3 separate regions of the Homo sapiens genome follow, and all the other regions are reported to be linked to region 2. Evidence: microRNA targets listed by miRTarBase, many of them from high-throughput screens and not tested one by one. Region 2 holds a microRNA gene; each other region holds the end of a gene's coding sequence. Distances are from middle to middle.

Region 1 (3,301 bases), 16 Mb from region 2:
CTGCATCCACTTTCACCACTGGGAGCTGCACGTGCTTATGCTAGGGGACTCGGGTCACTGAAATGAGAAAGTGACCGAGGACTGTTCCCCAGAGCCAGCGCATGCGCCCCAGTACCTGCCAGAGGAAGACGGCTGTGCATTAACACCTACGACACAGTCACAGGCTGATCTTTGTGTATTTTGCTTTCAGGAAAACATAGTCACAGGGCAGAGGACAGCACTGTAGAATGAGAACCAGAAGAGCCTAGGGGTGTGCAGAGGGTTGCTGAAGTGGCCAGAGTCACAGCGCGGCTGGTGACAGAGCAGAGTCTGGCCCCAGCCTCCCCTGCACAGCCGCCATTTATTAGCTCAGATGCTTCCAAATTCAAAATGCAGTGTCACCAGAAACCGCTGACACAGGCTGATGGTTCAGCAACTCACAGCCATCCCCTGGGGATGGGCTCCTACTCAGAAGTAGACAAGGTCCTTTTGGAGACAGAGCCTTCCTGGTTCTCACTCACTGAGGCCTTCCAGGAAGACGTTCCATTCTGAGTGCTTTGGCCCAAGTGGATTTTAGTGCAGGGATATGGTGAAATGGGGGAGCGGGCTGGGCTTACATGAGGCTGTCCCTTTAGGAATAATCCAGGAAGTGTCCCGGAAAAGAGAGAGAAGACATCAGAGCCTAAAGGAAACAGCTGGGCTCCGAACGGCCTCTCAGAAGAGCCTCTACTGAAAAATATGGATCATCACAGATCCAAACAGAAAAATGGGGGCGATGTCCCCACATGGAGGGAACACCCGACTTAGCAAATGGGACCGGTCCCCAGGGTCAGGCTCTTAGAGCAGGCACAAGACTGGGACACTGGACAGAAGGTTGTTCCCATGATGGTTTTTTTTATTTTTTATTTTTGAGATGGAGTTTCGCTCTGTTGCCCAGGCTGGAGTGTAATGGTGCAATCTCGGCTCACTGCAACCTCTGCCTCCTGGGTTCAAGCGATTCTCCTGCCTCAGCCTCCCGAGTAGCTGGGATTACAGGCGCCTGACACCACGCCCCGCTAATTTTTTGTATTTTTAGTAGAGATGGGGTTTCACCATGTTGGCCAGGCTGGTCTCAAACGCCAGACCTCAGGTGATCCACCTGCCTCAGCCTCCCAAAGTGCTGAGATTACAGGGGTGAGTCACCGCGCCTGGCCAATGTTGTTGTTGTTTTTAAGACAGAATTTCACTCTTTGTTGCCCAGGCTGGAGTGCAATGGCGCAATCTCTGGCTCACCGCAACCTCCGCCTCCCAGGTTCAAGCGATTCTCCTACCTCAGCCCCCAGAGTAGCTGGGATTACAGGCATGTACCATCACACCCGGCTAATTTTTTGTATTTTAAGTAGAGAGGGGGTTTCTCCATGTTGGTCAGGCTGGCCTCGAACTCCCAACCTCAGGTGATCCGCCCACCTCGGCCTCCCAAAATGCTGGGATTACAGGGGTAAGCCACTGTGCCCGGCCGGTTATTTCTTTAAAAGGTAATCATTTGTCAAGAGTAAAACCCAGAAGCTCTGACAGGCCATAATTTCAGATCCTTTGGCTTGGGCAGTTTTGATTTTCCCCGTGTTTGCATGGCATGAAGTCTTCGTCCTTGTCACAGTAGCTTGGGATGACTCCCAGTCCACATGGAAAACATCAGGGAGTGACAATCCAGCAAGAAATCCCTCGCTAGTTCCACACCTACGCACCGAGCGTCGGTGTGCCAGGCCCTGTGCTGGGCAGAGTGTGGTATGTCAGGGTGTGCCGGTTTTAGGTAACAAGACTCCACCACTGAGTGGCACCTGCCCTATTGCAAAGGAATCCAGTTCCTCCGGAATAACAGTCCCACTGTTAACCTGGTGCTACTGGGAAGTTCCACACAGTAATCTGAGCAGTGACTCATGGAAGGATGAGGAACGTTTGCTCCAGCTTCTCTCCCTTTCCAGCAAGGGCAGAGCTCCTAAAGCCAGGGGTTAGCACCTGGCCAGCTTATGTGGCAGATGGTCTCAGTTACAACTTCGCTGCTTTCCCAAACTCCTGCAGCCCTCCTGAGTCCGACTTCCGTTGATAGCAAGGCACTGGGTGGCAGCAACCTTTTTTCTAGTAGTTTTTTCCCAGCAGTTTTCCATTTCTCCACAGTATCCTTTTCATTTAGAGGAGCTTAATAAATGCTTTTTAAAAAGTAACCCACGTGACGTAAAATTTTACAAGTTTTTGTGGCAAAATGATGCCCAGATAGTCACATTTAAGCAAATATTCAGCTTGATTCAGTGATTAACAGCAAATGGGTCTACGTGCTAACATGGCAGCACATTCAACACATAACACATCACTCACATTGACGTCCACTGTCCCTGCACCTGCTACTTCAGGGGCACTGAGGCTCCTGTTCCAAGGCCTTACAAACCTATGTGGTGGCCTGCAGGGCAAAAGGAATTATCATTACAACTGGTTAGAGGTAGGAATTCAGAAAGAAATTGAGGAGGCCAAACACACGTCGTTTGAGGCTAAAGGCTTAAGACGCTTCTTACCCAAGAGTGACCTCAGAGTTTCACATCCCAGACAATCACACTGTGGTTGAGTGAAATCAAGTGCAGTTTTATTTAAGAACTGGAAAGAATAATCAGTATCTGTGAAAGAAAATCCAATTTAGAATATTTAAATAAACATTTATGTAAAAAGAAGAGTAGAATAATTACTCCGTTCAGTTCCTCTCCTTGCAATGGGATAGGCTGCCTCTGCTGCAGATGGCTGGGTCTTCCAAACCCATGACAAGTGCCACGGCCTCTGCAGCAGTGGCCCAGAGAGTAGGCACTTCCCAGCATGACAGAGAGGCCGAGGCCTTCTAACCTTGCCAAACCACTACAAAAGCAAACTAGGGTGGGCAAGCCCAACTACCTAAGGCAGGAAGAAAGTGCAGTGAAGGGACAGTGGTGTGCTGTGCGTATCGTGGGGGTACTCCTAAGCAGCTAGCTGTTGGCGAGATCTTACAAAGCCTGATCGGCTAACGCAGCTTCCTGGTTTAGGAACATTTTCCCCGGTCGTATCAATCCCCCAGGTTGGTAAATGAACAGAAGGGATGAATAAAGCCTACTTTTTAGGCTCAAGGAGCAGCTCGTGAAGGGGTGGCAGGTGCGCTGCTGCCTTGTTTTCTGTCCTGCTAAGAGGCTCACCCCGCGACCTCTTCTGTAAACTGCCACTCAGCAGCGGCCTGCAAGCCCTCACGAAAGGCTTCACTCTATGCTGTTTCCAGGTAGCTTTGTTCTGACAGTACCTATTTTCCACTTCAGAATCTCCACTTTAAAAC
Region 2 (3,000 bases):
CCATTAAATTTTCCATGCTGAACAGCTGAGCAAGAAATGGGACTTCTCTTCAAGGATAAAACAAAAAAATCAAGCCCAGTATATTTTCCTTTTCCTTGAACCTGATGAGGAAGCCTGGGATGAATCTGAGCTGGTGTTGTGACTGGCTTTGACCACCACAGAAGGCTGCAGGGGTGACACTTTGTGACATTAGAGCCCAGCCCTTAAGAAGCCTTGCAGTTTCCATTTCACCATCTTGGGAGCTAATTGCCATGGATAGAGGCGCAGTCTAGACTAGCAAAGGATGGGAGATAGCGAGGAGCGTAGGGGGACCAGCCTTCCAGCCTTCTCTATGAGGGCCTCAAAGATGTATGTGAAGCCACGATGGAATTTCCAGCCCAACCTAGCTGAGTGCAGCCTCCTGAGTGATCCCAACTGACAACCCGGGGAACAGAATAAGCACCCAGCTGAGCCCAGCCAATCCACTGAATCAGGACAACTAAGAAATCATTATTGTTTTAAGCCAGTAGGTTTTGTGGTGGCTTGCTAAAGATAAGTGATATGCTTTTCAGGAGTGGAGTCCTGTACTTTTTGTAGCTCTCCCTTCCCTTGCCTGAACCCCTGAACCCTGGCAATGGGCACTGAATCCTGGAGCTGGAAGAGGCCTCCAAAATCACTGAGTCTCACCCCTGTCATTTTATAGAAGAGAGAGCTGAGGCTCGGGAAGCCATGCAATTGACTCCAGGTCACACAGGGTAACAGGGGCAGATCCAGGAGGCAAACTCAAGCCCTTACAGGGGTTGAGCACCAAGGGTACGTCTCCACCGACTTGCAACACACCAAGACAAATGTATGTTGCAAGTCAGTAGAGAGGTACCCCTGGTGCTCACACATTCTGTCTTAAGAGGCAGTCACTCCAGCCAACTGTGGCCATGTGGGAATGTGGGCCCTGTGAAACCAGATTGTCTGACTTTTCAGAAACGCCAGAAACAGGACTTTTCTGTAAAATCTCTTGATTTTCAAATGTTGGCTAAGAATTTGAACTGGATAGATGAGCTATTAAGATTGGCCCTGGGCTTCAAGCTTGGTCCCGCTGCTGGCTTTGGGCGAGTCATATTATCTCCCAGACCTCAGTTTCCTCATCTCTAAAGTGGGCCCCGTGGCTCCTGCCCCTTTCAGGATGGCTGTGAAGGCCTGATGAGCTATTGTATTTGGAAGTACAAGCTGCAAATGGCCCTGTGACTGTTTCGTAGTCTCCATTCTCTGTGGAGGCGCCCCTTACAACATAATGAGTTAACACCCGATTTGTCTAAGTTAGAACAACATTATTCTGACCATTATCACAGAGATTGCATTTTTATGGCAGGTTTGTGAGTTGTAGAACCCTCCCATTGCATTATCTCAGGATGTTGATGGAGCTGGAAGCTGGACAGCTGCCTTAGAGACCCTCATCAGAGCCAAGCCTTTCCTCTGAGCAGGGAGGCACATTCTAGAAGTGGAGAAGAGCATGAGCTCTGGAGTCACCAGACTTGGGTTTCAATCGCTGCCTCACCACTCCCTAGGTGTCCTTGGGCCAGTCACTCCTCTCAGAGCTTTGGTTTTCTCATCTGTAAAATGGGCACAATAATACAACGACCTGTGGGGCTCTTGGGGCAACTGCACAAGGCAACACACATAATGCTGTTAGTACAATGTCTGGCACAAGAATTGACAGCTGCTGGGCGCGGTGGCTCACACCTGTAATCCCAGCACTTTGGGAGGCCGAGGCAGGTGGATCGCCTGAGGTCAGAGTTCGAGACCAGCCTGACCAACATAGTGAAACCCCATCTCTACTAAAATATACAAAAAATTAGCCGGGCATGGTGGCAGGCATCTGTAATCCCAGCTACTCAGGGAGGCTGAGGCAGGAAAATCTCTTGAACCCGGGAGGCAGAGGTTGCAGTGAGCCGAGATTGCACCACTGCAGTCCAGCCTGGGCAACAAGAGCAATACTCTGTCTCAAAAAAAAAAAAAAAAAAAAAAAGAATTGACAGCCATTCCCATGATCATGGCAGGGAAGGTGGTGCCTGGCAGGCACTGGGCAAAGAAGGAGGGTACAGCCATGAAGGAGTCTACCCCTTTCCCAGATTAGGGAGGCTGAATTGGAGTGGGGAGGGGGCCTTTGAGAAAACCTGGATGGTACCCTGAGTGGGCAGGCTGGAGGGGCCTCTCAGCTACTTGGCAAGCCAGTCAGACCCTTGCCCTGTAAGGCTCAGAACACAGTGGGTGGGGGAGAGCTGGAGATGAAAAACCTGGTACACTGGCCCCCTGTTCCCCTACTGTGAATTGAGCTTCCCATTGGTAGAAAGCAAGGATAGCAACCGTTCACATTTATTGCAAGCTTAGCACACCTGAGGCACACACTCAGCTTAGTCTTCCTCAGATTAACACATCCATTGCTCACAACCATCTCAAGAGCTAGGAACAATGATTACCCCCATTTGAAAGATGAGGAAACCAAGGCTCAGAGAGGTGAAAACACAAGCCAGAGGACACACAGTACGGAGCAGTCTGACTCCACACACATTTCCTGTAACCCCCAGGCTCTGCTGTTTATAGAACAGGAGAGAAAGTGATCAGGGCTAAGCAAAGCCTCTGTAGGACTTCAGAGAAAGGGACAAGTCATTCTGGCCAGGGGCACGAGGGTGCTGCTGACATTTAATGGTTACGGAAACTAATAAAGAATGGACACAGCTGAGTGCCAGGCAGTTCTGCCAGTCATGGTACACAGCATCTCACTGAATCCTCGCCATGAGCCTCTGACACATGCGCGGTATTCTCCAGTTTCCAGATGAGGAAGCTGAGGCTCAGAGAGTGGATCACTTGGTCAAGGCCACACAGCAGGCAAGGTCCCCTCTTCTGAGGACACTCCCACCCCACAGGGGCTGCAGCAGGGGGGCAGATGGCTCCAGGAAGCTCACCTAGTGAGGGTGTCCTAGGCAAGCCCCCAGATGACACGGGGGTACTGGGGAGACAGGTGTC
Region 3 (3,346 bases), not on the chromosome of region 2:
AGACTCAAACCACTTAACCAGTCCCAAGAGTTTAAAGATTCTTAAATTCAGAATTGCTTTTTAGATGCAACCAGAGGTAAGATCCCACTGTACCAAAAAGGGAAAGACATTCTTTGAAGCTAAATTGAACTAGATGGTTTCCTGAAGAATGAAGCCAGGGGTGGTGGCTCATGCCTGTAATCCTAGCACTTGGGGAGGCCGAGGAGGGCTATCACTTGAGGTCAGGAGTTCAAGACCAGCTGGCCAACACGGTGAAACGCCATCTCTTCTAAAAATACAAAAAAATTAGCTGGGGATAGTGGCGGCCACCTGTAATCCCAGCTATTCAGGACGCTGAGGCAGGAGAATCACTTGAACCTGGGAGGTGGAGGTTGCAGTGAGCTGAGATCGTGCCACCGTACTCTAACCTGAGTGACAGTGACACTCTCAAAAAAAAAAAAAAAAAAAAAAAAAAACTGAACCATGGAAGGAACTCACAAACCTCCAGCCTGCCTTGAAAGGGGTAACAAAATACCTAGTCAACAAGAAGACTGTCACCCAAGGGACCTGAAGTGCACATAATCCTGCCAAGGAAAGCACGCACCAATCTGCCCCCAGTTGCCCAGTACTTACTGTATCTAAAACTGAGCCAGGCCTTCAGCCCATAGGTGAAGATACATTCAGTGTTCCCAGTGGCAAGATTCAGCATCAGAAATTAGACAAAGGGCATGTCTTACAGTAAGGGAATTTTGTACAAAAGTCCAAAGGGAGGTGTATGGTGCTTTGTGGTTCAGATAATACAGAAAGTTGAGGAGCTTGATGGGGCAGAGAATGAAAACCAGCTATATGGTGGCAGCCTTGTTAACCCAAACAGATTCATTTACAGGTCCATTTTTTCAGGGTATAGAACCAGCAAGTTACAGGCTTCATCTGCTTGAAGTTAATGTGACTGTAGTTCTTCGTGTATGTATGGCTATTTTTTTCTTCTGCATCCCCTTGACTTGGCATAGTACTTGATCCAGTGGATATCAAAGTTTTGTGAGTTTCTGTTTTGAGTTTGCCAGTCTGTGCCATCTAATTCTCAAATCAGACCAAGGTAGGGAAGACAGCTAGCTTCTTCTTAGTGGTCTTCAATGTGGGTAGGGAGGGATTTTGCCTTTCTCAGAGGCATAGACATTTTTAGTTGTCACAATTGTGGAAGAGGGTGCTACTGGCATCTAGCAGGTAGAGTCCAGGGATGAAGTTAATCCTAAATCAAAATCAAAATAATAAACATCCTACAATGCCAGCATTGGTTTCTACAACAAATGATAATCTGGCCCAAAATCTCAACAGTGCCAAAATTAAGTAATTCTGTGTCTAGCAGACAGTAAGAAAAACACTAAGGGCCAGGTGCAGTGGCTCACGCCTGTAATCCCAGCACTTTGGGAGGCCGAGGCAGGTGGATCACCTGAGGTCAGGGGTTTGAGACCAGCCTAGCCAACATGGTGAAACCCCATCTCTACTAAAAATACAATATTAGCCACTTGAAGCCAGGAGGCGGAGGTTGCAGTGAGCCAAGATTACGCCACTGCACTCCAGACTGGGCGATAGAGCAAGACTGTCTCAAAAAAAAGAAAAAAAAAAAAGAAAAAACATTATGTTCAATCCTGAGCTCTGCTGTTCCAAAAACAAAAGATCAAAGGAGTCTGAAATGATAGGAATCGTTTTGGTTCAGACTTCTCTGGACATAGATCCCTTATCAGACGAAAACATAACTCATGCTAAAAAAAAACCTAGGCAAAAATAAGATTTAAAATGGAAGAATAAAATACTCTATATGGAAATCCTCAGCATGAGAAGGAAAAACAAATATTCACAGGGAAGATTATGGAATGTTCTCACCAAATGTAAAACAGGCCCAGTCAATGCCATTTATTATACATGTCAAACAGCTTCTAAGACCGACGGGCTCCCATAATAAGGTTTTGGGGATTTTTTGTTTTGTTTTTCATTTTCTTTTTTGCATCAAACAGGTTCTTCCAAAAGCCTGCTCACAAGGTAGACAAAAACATAAATCTTCAGGAAAATGAAACATGAGAAGCTGAAACAATCTACACCTGAATGTTAAAAAACTCATCAGACACAAACCACACCAAACACTCATCCCATTTAATTTCCTGTTACATGCTCTGAGGAAGCCAAGAACATCAGGCCCCAGGGCAGCAATGCTCTAGGATTCCAGCTCGGACCCCCTCTATATGACAGATTCATGCACACACATCCACACACCATAGAACCAGGCAGAAATACACATGCATGCACAGGTGGCTAGAGAACCATAGGGCAGGATGGGAAAAAGGGCTGATCAAGGATATGCAATCAACTGGAAACTGGGACCTAGAGAATGCTTCTGTTGCAGGATGAACATGAGTTAAAATTAAAACAAAGGCAGAACACAGGATAAAGGTGGGATGTTCAGACAAGAGGTGGGATAGATGAAGAGATAAAGATGCAGGGGGAGTTTTGGGAAAGCAGCCTCAGAAGGGGAGGTTTTTCTTTATTGGGAACTCAGGTGGGCAGGGTCCTGTGACTCCAGTGATACACTGAGGCAGAAGCAATATGCCACAGCATTACCTCTGCAATCTGTGCCCTCTCCCAAAGTAGAGGGAAACCATGAGCCCCCACCCTCTATCCCTCCCCATTGACACTCTTAAGAACTTTCCCATTACCCAAAAAGAAATGACCCCCTACTACACACACACACACGCAAAGTTAGGTCCAGCATAGGCCAAAGTCAGGCCAAGCACAGAAAGCCTCAGTAACTCTTCTTGGTGGAACCAAAGCCAGAGAAGCCCATCACAGCTGCCATCTCATCGTCCTCCTCAAATGTCAAGTCCTCCTCAGCCCTCCTTTTCTTCTCCTTCTGTTTCTCTTTCTTGTACGCTTTGGCCTTTTCCTCCTGGAGGGAAAAATCACTCAGAATCAGTTTAGACTCCTCAGCCAAATGTTGTTTGTAACAACAACTAACATTCTGGGGCATGCAGTACATGCCAGAAATTGCTCTGAGTACTTCATGTATATTAAGATCTCTAATATGGGGATATTGAGGCACAAAGAGGTTATATAACTTGCCCAAGATTCACAGCCAGTAAGTGGAAGAAACAGAATTTTGACCCAGTCAGCCTGATTTCATGGGTCTCTTTAGGACTAGGTACATTTAGTTAATTCCTCTTGCAGTTAAAAAAAAAAAAAAATTATGGGGGAGGCTATGCATGTTGTGGGGGACAGTGGGTATATGGGAAATCTTTATAACTCCCTCTCAATTTTGTTGCAAACCTAAACTCCTCTAAAAAAAGTTTAGTCTTTTAAAAAAATTAAATCAAAG

What was found. Region 2 holds the annotated microRNA hsa-miR-4684-5p (CUCUCUACUGACUUGCAACAUA, at 831-852, opposite strand). A microRNA usually pairs through its seed, bases 2 to 8, with sites in the 3' UTR of a target mRNA and lowers its output. Matches are read on the target gene's strand: a 7mer-m8 pairs with bases 2 to 8, a 7mer-A1 pairs with bases 2 to 7 and ends in A, and an 8mer does both.
Region 1: miRTarBase lists RNF207 as a target of hsa-miR-4684-5p. Seed matches in the 3' UTR shown: 7mer-m8 at 1,054-1,060 and 7mer-m8 at 1,358-1,364.
Region 3: the mRNA of ZMAT2 is a reported target of hsa-miR-4684-5p. The part of its 3' UTR that is shown has no 7-base or 8-base seed match.

Annotation. Positions count from the first base shown.
Region 1 is chr1:6,218,622-6,221,922 of GRCh38, forward strand. It overlaps RNF207 (ring finger protein 207), which reads left to right. Exons shown (of 18, transcript NM_207396.3): 18 at 615-2,678. The coding sequence ends at 786. It overlaps ICMT (isoprenylcysteine carboxyl methyltransferase), which reads right to left. Exons shown (of 5, transcript NM_012405.4): 5 at 2,572-3,301. Among named protein-coding and RNA genes, the nearest start is that of RNF207, 14 kb to the left of the region's middle. RefSeq lists silencers at 214-414, 845-1,030.
Region 2 is chr1:22,717,382-22,720,381 of GRCh38, reverse strand. MIR4684 (microRNA 4684) reads right to left here and starts at 865; the gene lies at 784-865. The region is part of intron 1 of EPHB2 (EPH receptor B2); the gene reads right to left. RefSeq lists an enhancer at 2,529-3,000.
Region 3 is chr5:140,705,187-140,708,532 of GRCh38, reverse strand. ZMAT2 (zinc finger matrin-type 2) reads right to left here. Exons shown (of 6, transcript NM_144723.3): 6 at 1,847-2,920. The coding sequence ends at 2,777. Among named protein-coding and RNA genes, the nearest start is that of ZMAT2, 6.4 kb to the right of the region's middle.